3 linked regions of the Homo sapiens genome follow. The protein of the gene in region 3 purifies or fractionates together with the protein of the main gene of each other region. This does not show direct contact. Each region holds a gene or a part of one and is shown on either strand. Other genes may lie near its edges. The genes, in order: NUP210, DDX60L and SECTM1.

Region 1 (3,647 bases), on a different chromosome or scaffold from region 3:
GTGTGTGCCTGAGCCAACAGCTTCATGTTTACTTTTCCTATTTTTTTTATTTTATAACATCAAAATTGGACAGTTTTCGGGCCAGGGGAACCTTAGAGGTCACCTAGTTTAAACAGCCTGTGTTTCATATAGGAAAACCTGAGCTCCAGAAGGGGAAGTGATCTCTGGGAAGTCTTGTAGCGATGGACACTGAGTTGGAGCAGGAGCTGCTGGGACCCCTCCCTGTCCCACGCCATTAGACCTGGGGACTGGCAGCCTCTGGCTAATTTGCCAGGCTCTAATTCTCTCCAACTGCACCCAGCCAGCACTGGTTTTGTGACAAGTTCCTGATTCCTTCTAGATATTTTGCATTATTGAAAGTGTTCCATAAAGTATATTACATTTGCTCCTTTTAAAGGTATATACAAAACGACCTCATATCAAAAACTGGGAGAACAGACGAAAAAGAAATCATGCCATAATCTTCCAGCTGTAATACAATCACAGGCAGCATTTTGGTTTCTTTTCGGTCACTTATGTTTCCTCTCCTAGCTCCTTTCTTACATTGCCTTGAACCTGGTTATTTGGGCACCTCGGGAACCTCCTCCCCTGCCAACACTGGCTAGCACTGAAGCCCAAGCACTGCTCTGTTGCTTCTTCCTGAGGGCTCCGTGTCTGAGCACCTTTCTGCTGGGTTGAAGTTGCCTCCTCATTGATTCTTTCCCTGTCATGGAGTCCCAGGGTATTCTGGGTGCTCCAGCAAGGGGGCGCTGTCTTGGAGAAAGTGAGTGGCTCAGATTGGTTTCCCAGGGGTGGAGCCTGAGGCAGGATTCTGCTGCCCTAGTTTACAGAGAAAGTGCTCTGTTGGGCAGCTGGATAGGGAAGGGAGGCTGCCTGCAGGTTGTCCTGCCTTCAGGCGAAGAGACCAAGCTTTGAGCTTTTGTACCCACTGTCAGGCAGCCATTGGTTCCCCTGGGGAAGGGGATGTTGTGCGACCTCCCGGGCCTCTGGCGGAGACACTCTGTTTTGAATTACGACCTGCAGCTCCCCTGGCTGAGGTGGGGAGGGGATGTGGACCTGCCTGGTGAACAACATCCAGACACAGCATGCACAGTGACTGCCATACCAAGCTGTTCACAGACTTCTCCTTTCCTGCCCCTGACAGTCTCTCCTGGGCACCTTGGAGCCATCTAACACGTGTGCCAGGCCTGGTCCTGCACCAGGGTACACCCTCTCTTATGTGGTCTGGGGCACTTCTCAGTCACAGGTGTAAGGATTCTCAAACAGGTAGATGGGAGTCCTTTCAGGGCCAGGGAGGGCACTGGTCCCTATGCCGTGGAGCTTGGCCTTGGGGCATGCTGTACCCCAGGCAGTTCAGATGACCCCTGGGGAGTCCCTCTTTGCTGAGGGGTGACTGTGGGAGGCCAGAGGCCAGCACTACCCTTGCGTGTGGATGTCCTGGGTCCCTCTCCCTGCCCCAGCAGGGGAAGCTGCAGCAAATCCCCTCACAGGCCTTCGTGGGTGAAGTTGGGCACTAAGGGTGAGGGATGCACGCTGAGCCAAGTCAGAGTGTCATCTGGCCTAGCTGGCTTCTGCTGGGCTCAGGGACCCTGAGCCTCTGGGACGGGCACGTCAGCAGGTCACATGCTGGAAACTTGCACAGGTGAGGCAACAGGGCCTGTAAGAAGTTGCCCCATAGTCAAAATAAAAAATTCACAAAGTGGAAACAACCCAAAAGAGGGAGTTGAATTCGACGGGAGGCCCCCAGTTTGCTCTTCTGTACCTCCTTCACTTGGCCTTCCCTGAGCCCACACCTGTACTTCTGCTCTTTTCGTTGAGAGTGTTTTCCCCTGTACCACTCAATTTGTGTGCATGCTGCATCCCCACACACCTAGGCCAAATCTCTGTCTCCTTCCTTATGCCTGGCCTTAGAGTCACAGGCTTTGGTCGATTGCGTTATCATCTGGGCCTATTTGATGGCATTTCTGGCAGTTAGAAAGTGGGGTGGAGAAACCAGAGCTCCCGCAGGGCCTGGGAGAGGGCACACGGTGAAGACCCGTCCTGCCTGAGCACCAGGGGACAAGCACTGATGGACGACACATATTTCACCGAGGAGGGCTGGAGAGTCACTGAATAAGAGGTGACAAATGTCTGTGACTCTTTTTATTTTTTGAGATGGAGTCTCGCTGTGTTGCCAGGCTGGAGTGCAGTGGCACGATCTCGGCACACTGCAACCTCCACCTCCCAGGTTCAAGCTATTCTCCTGCCTCAGCCTCTCAAGTAGCTGGGACTACAGGCACATACCCAGCTAATTTTTGTATTTTTAGTAGAGACAGGGTTTCACCATGTTGGCCAGGATGGTCTAGATCTCTTGACCTTGTGATCTACCCGCCTCAGCCTCCCAAAGTGCTGGGATTACAGGCATGAGCCACCACACCCACCTGTCTGTGACTCTTACTATGAGCCAGGCACTACTTGAGGTCCTGGGATGTGACAGTGAAGCAGCAGGAGATGCCCTGCTCTCAGGGACTCACAGTTGATTGCCGGAGTTAAACGGTTAATTAAGATGAGATCTGTGGATGCATGTGAGGCAGGAGTAAGTCCTGAAGGAAACAGAACTGCAAGGCATGGAATGTGTTTTGGGGAGGGCGCTCAGCATAAGCCTCCTGGGAGTCGAACTAGGAGTGGAGTGGGGTTGAGTTGGAGGGGACAGCAAGTGCAAAGGGCCGGAGGAGAGATAGAGCTTGTCAGAAGTGCGCAAAGGCAGCACGTTTGGCCAGGGCAGCAGGGCTGGGAGGGAGGGTGGAGAGGTTGGCAGGGCGGGGCCATGTGGGACCTTGTGGGCTGTGGTTAGGAGACAGGAAGGAGAATGCCAGGTCAGATGTGGGCAGGGTTAGACTGGGCCTGGTTTTTGGGCCTCGTTCTCCCTGGCCCCTGAGGGCTGTCTGTAGCTGTGGCCCCTGCAGGGCTGGACCGGGCCTTGCTCAACTCCCTTCACCAGGCCCGCAGCAGGGAAGTGCCAGGAAGTGTCTGTGGACCTGGGTTGACTTGGGCCTTGGGTGATTTTCTTCCTGCTTCCTTTGTGGGTCCCCCACTCTGCCTGAGCTCTGTCAGCCCCACGAGGTGGCTTCCGCTCTGTAGACACTGCCTTTGGGCACCGTTAGGGGCTGGACCCCGCGGGTGGATGGGAGGTGGCGTGTGTCATCCACCACCCTCACCCATCCTTGTTCTTTGTGCAACTCTCACTTCTCTTTTCTTTTCACTGTTGCTTTCTGGCCTGACCCAGGTCCCTGAGTTCCCCTATGGCCTGCCTGCCTCCTGTTCCTGTGTTGTGAAGAGTGGGGAGCACCCCCTCAAAAGCAGTGCCTGCCAGACGCCAGCACATTCTGTGTGCCAGTGGGGCCTCATGCGACAGTGGGAATGAGAAAAATTCACTCTTTCAAAACTCACTGTCAGTCCTTTAATTTTCCTCAAAATAAAAGTTTTCTTCTGGTGTCTGTATGTGGTTTACATATTTTTTTATTTTAAATTGTGGTAAAATATATATAACATATAATCGACCTCCTTAACCATTTTTAGGTGTAGAGTTCTGTGGCATGAAGTACGTTCACAATTGTTGTGCAGCCACCTCCACCATCCACCTTCAGAACTCTTTCATCTTCCCAAAT
Region 2 (4,244 bases), on a different chromosome or scaffold from region 3:
AAAAGAGGAAATCCCCATTAAATTGTATGTGCTTTGGGGGAGGAATAATGACACTGTAGTATTTAAAAGAACTGGAATGAGATAATATATACAGAGAATATTGTAGATATTATCTTTGGAATTAAATTTTGAAGTCTTGGCTACCATTAACTACCTGTAGGGTCATCGACAAGTAATTGAATTCTCTAAGCCTTATTTACCTCATCCATAAAATAGCAACAGTAAAGTTGCTCATGGGATTTCTGTGAGATTTAATGTGATAATACATGTTAAGGGCTTAGCCTATTGCCTGGCACATAAAAAGCTCAATGAATGCTTTTACAGCAAAGCCCAATTTTCTGCTGCTAGCAAATGCATTCTTATGATACAAAGGTCCAGTATCAGATGCTAGAGAGGAATTCATCTGAGATGAACTCATGACTTAATCATGAGTCATTTCAGGTTCTTTCTCAATGTCATCCTCATTGAGAAAGAGAATCATAACTATTTTCAACCAAACATAAAATTAAAGAAAAATCCTGACAGAAGTGAGCAATGTTTTCACCTCCTTTTCGAAGCCACTTTATATTCCAGAGTCTGAGAAAAAACTTTGTTCTTCTGGGCTCTTTCTATTGTGAACAAGTCACTTCCACCCTTTCCTTTTCTTGAAGACAGAACTTCCGGTTTCGATTTCTCTCCATTTATTACCCCATGCCGTTACTGGGGCACCCTCACCACCACCTTGAATCTCAATATATTCTGCACATGCATAACGTCATGGAATTAAGCGTCTGGAGCACTAAAGACCATGATGGGCTGGGGTTGAAACTCGAATTTCAAACATTAATGAGCTTGATGACAAAACTAAAGAGCATTCTTCTTCTCAATTTAAATTCTCTGTGATAGATGATTGGTCTTTCAAATGTTCACACTGGACAGTTATACTATTGGAAATTTTTCATAAAATGAACTTCTTAGGACAGAAACTCAAAGCCCCTAATCCTTTTTTACTCCATTTTTGCCTGTCCAGTACCTTGCCAGAAAAGAAAAACGCCACACCTCACCGCAGACTTTCATAGTGCTTAGCGTGCTGCATTTACTCTCAGCCTCAATTCCTTGTTTAGAGTCCCAGATTTCTCTGCTTTCTTTCCCTTTACAATTACATGCATGTCCCAGATAGCATATCATCGCTTCTACTATTACTTCCCTAAGATTCTCAGAGTAAACCAATGCAGACCTATATTCTACCTCCAGAAAACTGCGGAAATCGAAAAGGCCTCGCGGTGGAGAAAAGAAACCGAAACTAACTCCCTAGATAAAAACTCAGGCGCTGGCTGCTGTGTGGCTCAGAGCGCCCAGTCCGACGCCAGGCTCTGCGCTCGGTCTCCTCTGCTCCACCTCCTCCCCGCGGGGCGTGCAGCTCCGAAGCTCTTTGGACCTAGCAGGTTCGGCGGCCGGGGTGAGGATTGCGGGTGACGTCGGGTGTCGCTAGGGACCCTGGAGCGGAGCTGTCCCGCGGGGGTTCTAGGATTCCTTCAACATCCAGATGGACCGGGCGGGGAGGTGGCCTGGTGGCTTCGTGCGCGCCGGGCGAGGGAAGCTGGGGCGCCCACTGGGCTCGGGCGGCAGCTTCGCGGAGAGGTAGGGAAGAGGGACAACCACCGTGAGAGAGGAGAGTGCTCAGGCATTTAACGGGTCCTCTGCACCCGAGGGGGCCTGGGGATCTGGGGTGCTGAGGAGAAAGTAAGGGTCACCACATCTGAGCACAGCCATTCGAACCTGGACATTGACAGGCAGCAAGCCGCTTCCCTTTTTTCCGTCTTGTATTTAAGCTTTTTTTTTTTTTTTTTTTTTGAGTCAGTCTCGCTCTGTCGCCCAGGCTGGAGTGCAGTGGCGTTATCTCTGCTCACTGCAACCTCCACCTTCCGGGTTCACGCTATTCTCCTGCCTCAACCTCCCGAGTAGCTGGGACTACAGGCACCCGCCACCACGCCCGGCTAATTTTTTTTTATTTTTTATTTTTTATTTTTAGTAGAGACGGGGTTTCACCATGTTAGGCCAGGATGGTCTCGATCTCCTGACCTCGTGACCCGCCCGCCTAGGCCGCCCAAAGTGCTGGGATTACAGGCGTGAGCCACCGCGCCCGGCCGGATTTAAGCTCTTAATAGCGGAAATAAGGTTTTACTATTTCTCTGGAAAGGTACTTTGTTCTTTTTTCCCGCTTCTCTTTTGTTTACAAAGTTACATTGATAAATTTATAATAAACTTCTCAAGGTTTTCCATAATCAAAGAAGCTGACATCATCCGTGATGGGGCCTTAAGGATTATGAAAGCTCCTAATGACTGCTAGAAAAAGCGGTCAGAACCAAACAGAAGCAAGTCCTTTAAAGACACAATAAGAAGTCCAAACCATAACATCAACGACATACAGACCTTCATGATTTCGAGTGTTCTCCTGAAAACAGTAACATACCATTCAATCTAAGATTTGCAGTTTGAAGTTTGGTGGAACTCAGGTGCTGAGAGTTGAGGGTACTAAAATAAATGAGGGTGAGTTATGCTTCCAAGGCTCTTCGCCTTCTATCCCAAAGATATTGGGGATAGTTTAGTGTGAATCCTTCCTGATACTCTACAAAGAGACAAGTTTTTGTCTATAGCTCCTATCTCTCTATCCATCCATCCATCCATCCATCCATCCATCCATCCATCCATCATCCAGCCATCCAACCATCCGTCCATCCATCGATCCATCATCTGTCTATCTCTAGATCCATACACTTTAAAAGATATTTTGGCTGTCATACTGGTATGCTTTTCTTGGTTCATGATTTATTGGTACCTGTCAGTCTTACTTAGTAATTGCTGTATGATACCCCATGGTATGCTGGGTCATAATTGATCAGTTTTATTTGAAGCAGAAGAGAAAGACATAAAACAAAAATTAAATGCCCTTCTCTACTACTTTCCCCTTCATACTTAGTCTCACAGTTTTAGTTCTCCTGAGGCGTTACCACTCCAAAGATATACATTTCTTTCTTGGTTGCTTATAAATTATATGCTTACAAATCAGTCTTTTGTTTTATCTACTTTAGACAGACTCCGACGACTCCCTGTGAAAGAAATACTTCTAATATGAATTATATATTTTTAAAAATTCTTCTCAGGATTAGCTTTATGGCTTTTAATAAAATACCCATGTTAATTATCATCCACGGCTATGTTGATGTGGGTGGAAATCTCTGTGGTTTTCCCTGCTGCAGGCTCATTTTCTGCTTTGTAAGTATGGAGACCTGCTGGTTGATTTACTGATATCACCCTTTTTTATAACCTGCTGCTTGTTTTACTGATGTAACCATTTTTAAGGCAGCTCATAGTTTATTTGGAAATACAATTCTCTAAGAAATGTATCCAGCTTCTTATGCTCTAGTTAGTTCCCTATGCCGTTAATTACACCCAGAGAGTTTCTATTTTCATCCTAATTCCCTCTCAAATTAGCATAATCTGTCTTAAGTTCATTTGAAATGATAGTCTGGCCTGGGAGGGTAACACCTCCACCTAATACTTGCAGCAAGGCTAAGTCCTTCTGTTTAACTGAGAATTCTTTATGAGTCTTTGTTGAGCAAGGTGTTTTTTTTCTTTTTTTTTTGTCCTATCACTTTTTATTTGCAGTACAGAAGCTGTCACCTGTGCGACCCAAATTTCTTGGCTCCCTTCCTTCTTCTCCTCTTTTCCCCTCCCCTCCCCTCCCCTTCGCTTCCCTTCCTTTTTAAAATAGGGATGTGGTCTCATTTTGTTGCCCAGGTTGGTCTCCAACTCTTGGCCTTGAGCAGTCCTCCCACATCAGCTTCCCAAAGGGCTGGGATTATAGGTATGAGGCGCTGTGTCCAGCCAATTCTCTTCTTTCCAGCTCTGCTTTCATACCACCCAGTTCCTTCTTAAGACATTTCTCTTTCCCATTCTTCCTTGGTCATAGCTCCTCAAAAACAGCAACTAAAACACTATAGACATTGACCATCAACCTTTTCCAATCACTTTTCTGTGAGCATCAGGCTTGTTGGCATGTGGTTGGCTTCCTAGTTTTGAAGGGGATGATTTTTACCAGATATTTTGCTTTGCATCACCTGGGTTTCCAACTTTTAAGCCCAAGAAGCCTAGTTTCTCACTGCCTATTATCTGTCCATTAGGGTGGAGATACATACCATGTTTGATTGGTTTTATAATCTGTGTCTTCTCTTTTTACATCTAAGATGAGGATGAAAATTACA
Region 3 (3,647 bases):
CCAGCCTCCCAGCCCCCGCCAGGTGACAGCCGCTCCCGCTGTCCCCTTCAGCAGCTGCAGGGGGCTCTGACCCATGGGCTTTCCTTCCTCCAGGGAGTGTTTCAAGAGCCAGTGACAAGGACCAGGGGCCCAAGTCCCACCAGCCATGCAGACCTGCCCCCTGGCATTCCCTGGCCACGTTTCCCAGGCCCTTGGGACCCTCCTGTTTTTGGCTGCCTCCTTGAGTGCTCAGAATGAAGGTAGGTCTCGGGGCCCCGCCTCTCTGCTGGGGAAAGGGGGGCCCGGTGGGGGCATGACAGGGGCAGGAGGGGTGGACTGAGGTTGGGTCCAGGTGCCACCAGACCCCCGATAATGACTGACTCTGCAGACCCAGGGCCTGACCATGTGGAGCTGGGCTGCCTCAGGTGGCGGTGAGTGGACCGTGTCCCGCCGTGGGTGGAGGGTGGTGGTGAGTGGGCCGTGTCCCGCCGTGGGTGGAGGGCGGTGGTGCCCGCTGTGGTACCTGGTGGTCACTGTCAGAGCAATTGTGGGGAAGGACCAAGATCACGACCAGTTTCCAAGGGAGAGGGTCTGGGTCAGTTGCGACCTGTGCCATGGCCGGGAACAGACAGCAGCCCTGGCCTGGGGGCTCCTTAGTCAGGCGCACCTCAGGCCTGCCAGGAGTGGATCTGCATTTGAACAGGGTCCCCCAGTGAGATCCTCCCCAGCTCTCTAGATCCCCAACCTGTCAGCAAAGTGACCTGAGGGGCTTTTCTTTTCTTATCTTTTTTTTTTGAGACGGGTTCTACCTCTATCGCCCAGGCTGGACGCCCAGGCTGGAGTGCAGTGGTACAATCACAGCTCACCGCAGCCTCGACCTCCTGGGCTCAGGTGATCCTCCCACCTCAGCCTCCCGAGTAGCTGGGACTACAGGCATGCACACCATACCTGGCTAAATTGTGTATTTTTTGTAGAGATGGGGTTTTGCCATGTTGCTCAGGCTGGTCTCAAACTCCTGGGCTCAAGTGATCCTCCCACCTCGGCCTCCCAAAGTGCTGGGATTACAGGCGTGAGCCACTGAGCCACCCGAGGGGCTTTTAAAAGATGTCAGAGCTCAGCCACATCCCAAACCACATCCCAAAGCAGTTCAGTCAGAATCCTAAGAACGAACAAAAAACAAAACAAAACTGAAAGGGAAGAATCCCAGGTGGAAGAACCCTGGTTTCGGGAGATTCTGCCCCCACCCCCCAACAGTGGTTCCAAAGTGTAACTGGGCTGGGGCACCCCCTGGACAGCCGCCCGCTGCCCTCGGGACGGTGTGAATTTGTGCAGTGGCCTTAGAGGCCCTGCAGTCCCTGAACACTCAGAGCGTCCAGGCAGGCAGCCAGCCTGCTCGTCAGAGGAAACTCAGTCCAGCCCGAAGGCCAGGTGCCCCTGAAGCCCACCTCCTCCCATGGGCACCAAGGCCCCTGGCACTTGCCAGCACATGGCACCCACCATGTGGTTTTGTATTTGGTGAAATGTGGCCAAATGGCGGCTCCAACCAGCATGCTGTGTGCTCCCCGAGAGCTCACCCTGCCGTCCGTCTGTCCGTCCATCCGTCCGTGTCCAGTCACTGGTGGACGCTGACGCAGCAGGGACAGTAGCAGCACCAAGACCTCAGGCTGGTACCATGCTCGGGCCCGACGGCCTGAATCTCAGGCATCCTTGAGCTGGCTGCTGGGGCAAAGGCCCCAGACCCTCTGAGGGAAGCAGCTGCACGGGTCGCTATGGGGCAGGGTTCACCCAGGAGGCGGGAGAGAGAGACTGACACGCCGGCTTGTGTCAAGGACTTGACCTCCCAGGACTGTGGAGCTGTGTATGGAGCTGGCCCAGCAACCTGGAGCTGAGCGGGTGGCCGGGAGGGGAAAGGGAATGTTGGGGGTGGCACAAGCAGGCTGGGCCCCACAAGGACAGGCTGGAACCCATGTCTGCTCTGCTTGCCTCTGAGGCTGGCCTGTGGGTGTCTGCAGAAGCCCTGCCCTTCCTCACGCAGCCGAGCACCTGCACCTGGCCTAGGCCTTGGAGAAACAGGAGGGAGCTGGGGGCGGTGGGGCCTGGCCACTGCTTCCCACGAGGAGGGTGATTCGGCAGGTCAGTGGCAGCACTCCTGCCACAGCGCAGCCGCCCGGCACACACCTGAGGCTCTGACTTCACCCACCCCAGTGGAAATATACAGGGGAGGGAGTTGATAGGAAATGCCTTCGTCCAAGCTGACACACCCCAAGGAACAGACGTGGGTGTGAGCACGCACACACACACACATACACACACACAGAGCCACCCGTCTTTTTTGTTGCTATTTTATTCTTCCCACACGAGATATATGTGCTGATTGGGTCGGGTGGATGTATACATAGTTCACTGTGTCCCTTAGAGGCCCTGTCTCCTGCCCTGGCCCTGGCCCTGGGCACAGCAGCCAGCCAATGCCCTGAGGTCCAGCCCTGATCCGTGTGTGCCTCTGTCTGGCCCTACAGGCTGGGACAGCCCCATCTGCACAGAGGGGGTAGTCTCTGTGTCTTGGGGCGAGAACACCGTCATGTCCTGCAACATCTCCAACGCCTTCTCCCATGTCAACATCAAGCTGCGTGCCCACGGGCAGGAGAGCGCCATCTTCAATGAGGTGGCTCCAGGCTACTTCTCCCGGGACGGCTGGCAGCTCCAGGTTCAGGGAGGCGTGGCACAGCTGGTGATCAAAGGCGCCCGGGACTCCCATGCTGGGCTGTACATGTGGCACCTCGTGGGACACCAGAGAAATAACAGACAAGTCACGCTGGAGGTTTCAGGTGAGGGGAGGCTCGGGGAAGCAAGGGGGAGGGGAGTGAGAGGGGACACGGGGAGGGGAGGGGGCCTGGGCAGGGGGAGGGCTGAGACTGAGAGGGAAGGAGGAGGAAGAAGAGCAGGCATGAGCCGGGCTGCCAGGAGACAGGGTTGGCGGGTAGAGAGTTGGGGTGGAGGCCTCTTGACCTCCTGGGACAGTTCTTCCTTTGGGAGGGGCAGGGGTCAGGCAGGAGGCTCAGGGGGCACAGACCCCACAGTGGGGTGGGACCCACAGAGGGCAGCCGGAGTCCCACAAACAACACAGAACACAAAGCTGCTCCTCAAAGGAGCCCAGTCTGCCTGTCAGGGGTGGGGGCTGCACCCTGCAGCCAGGAAGCCCAGGCACCCCCCGCCTCCCTGCCACCCCCACCCCGGCTGTGTGGGGAAACTGCACCCCAAATACCTGTGCTCTGAGAGGCCCTCCAGACCCGCAGCACCTGGCTTCGAGGCACCTGCCCTCCCTTTACTGGGGTCACCCAGAGGTGCTCAAGGTCGCCCGCGCAGCACCCTTAGTGACCACGAACAGGGGCCTCCCAGGCTGCCACGGTCCTGCCCCGCCCCTCCCACTCCCACTCCCATGTTGTCCACCTCGACAAGCACCTAGACCACACCTGCCCTCGCCACTCCTGTCTTCAGGGCTGGGACCACCCCCGACCCTTCTCTGTCCCCACCCCTCTCCTCCTGCCCTCAGGGGATGCTCGCTGCCCCACTCTCTGCCTCAGCTCCCCCGACACAGGCATGATCACCACCCACTCATGTCCCCACTAGCCCAGCCCACTGCTCCCTCTGCCTCTTCTCCCCCGACTCAG

The links.
Region 1: the proteins of SECTM1 (region 3) and NUP210 purify together in Homo sapiens (affinity purification with mass spectrometry, with the first as the bait; one large-scale study listed by BioGRID). This does not show direct contact.
Region 2: the proteins of SECTM1 (region 3) and DDX60L purify together in Homo sapiens (affinity purification with mass spectrometry, with the first as the bait; one large-scale study listed by BioGRID). This does not show direct contact.

The regions. Positions count from the first base shown.
Region 1 is NC_000003.12:13,413,731-13,417,377, reverse strand, and holds part of NUP210 (nuclear pore membrane glycoprotein 210 precursor), read left to right. Parts: intron 1-3,647. UniProt on the Homo sapiens protein: Nucleoporin essential for nuclear pore assembly and fusion, nuclear pore spacing, as well as structural integrity.
Region 2 is NC_000004.12:168,477,571-168,481,814, reverse strand, and holds the start of DDX60L (probable ATP-dependent RNA helicase DDX60-like), read left to right. Parts: upstream 1-1,322; 5' UTR 1,323-1,438; exon of another isoform or gene 1,439-1,620; intron 1,621-2,011; exon of another isoform or gene 2,012-2,179; intron 2,180-2,253; exon of another isoform or gene 2,254-2,529; intron 2,530-4,244.
Region 3 is NC_000017.11:82,323,739-82,327,385, reverse strand, and holds part of SECTM1 (secreted and transmembrane protein 1 precursor), read left to right. Parts: intron 1-93; 5' UTR 94-145; coding exon 146-239; intron 240-2,495; coding exon 2,496-2,804; intron 2,805-3,647. UniProt on the Homo sapiens protein: May be involved in thymocyte signaling.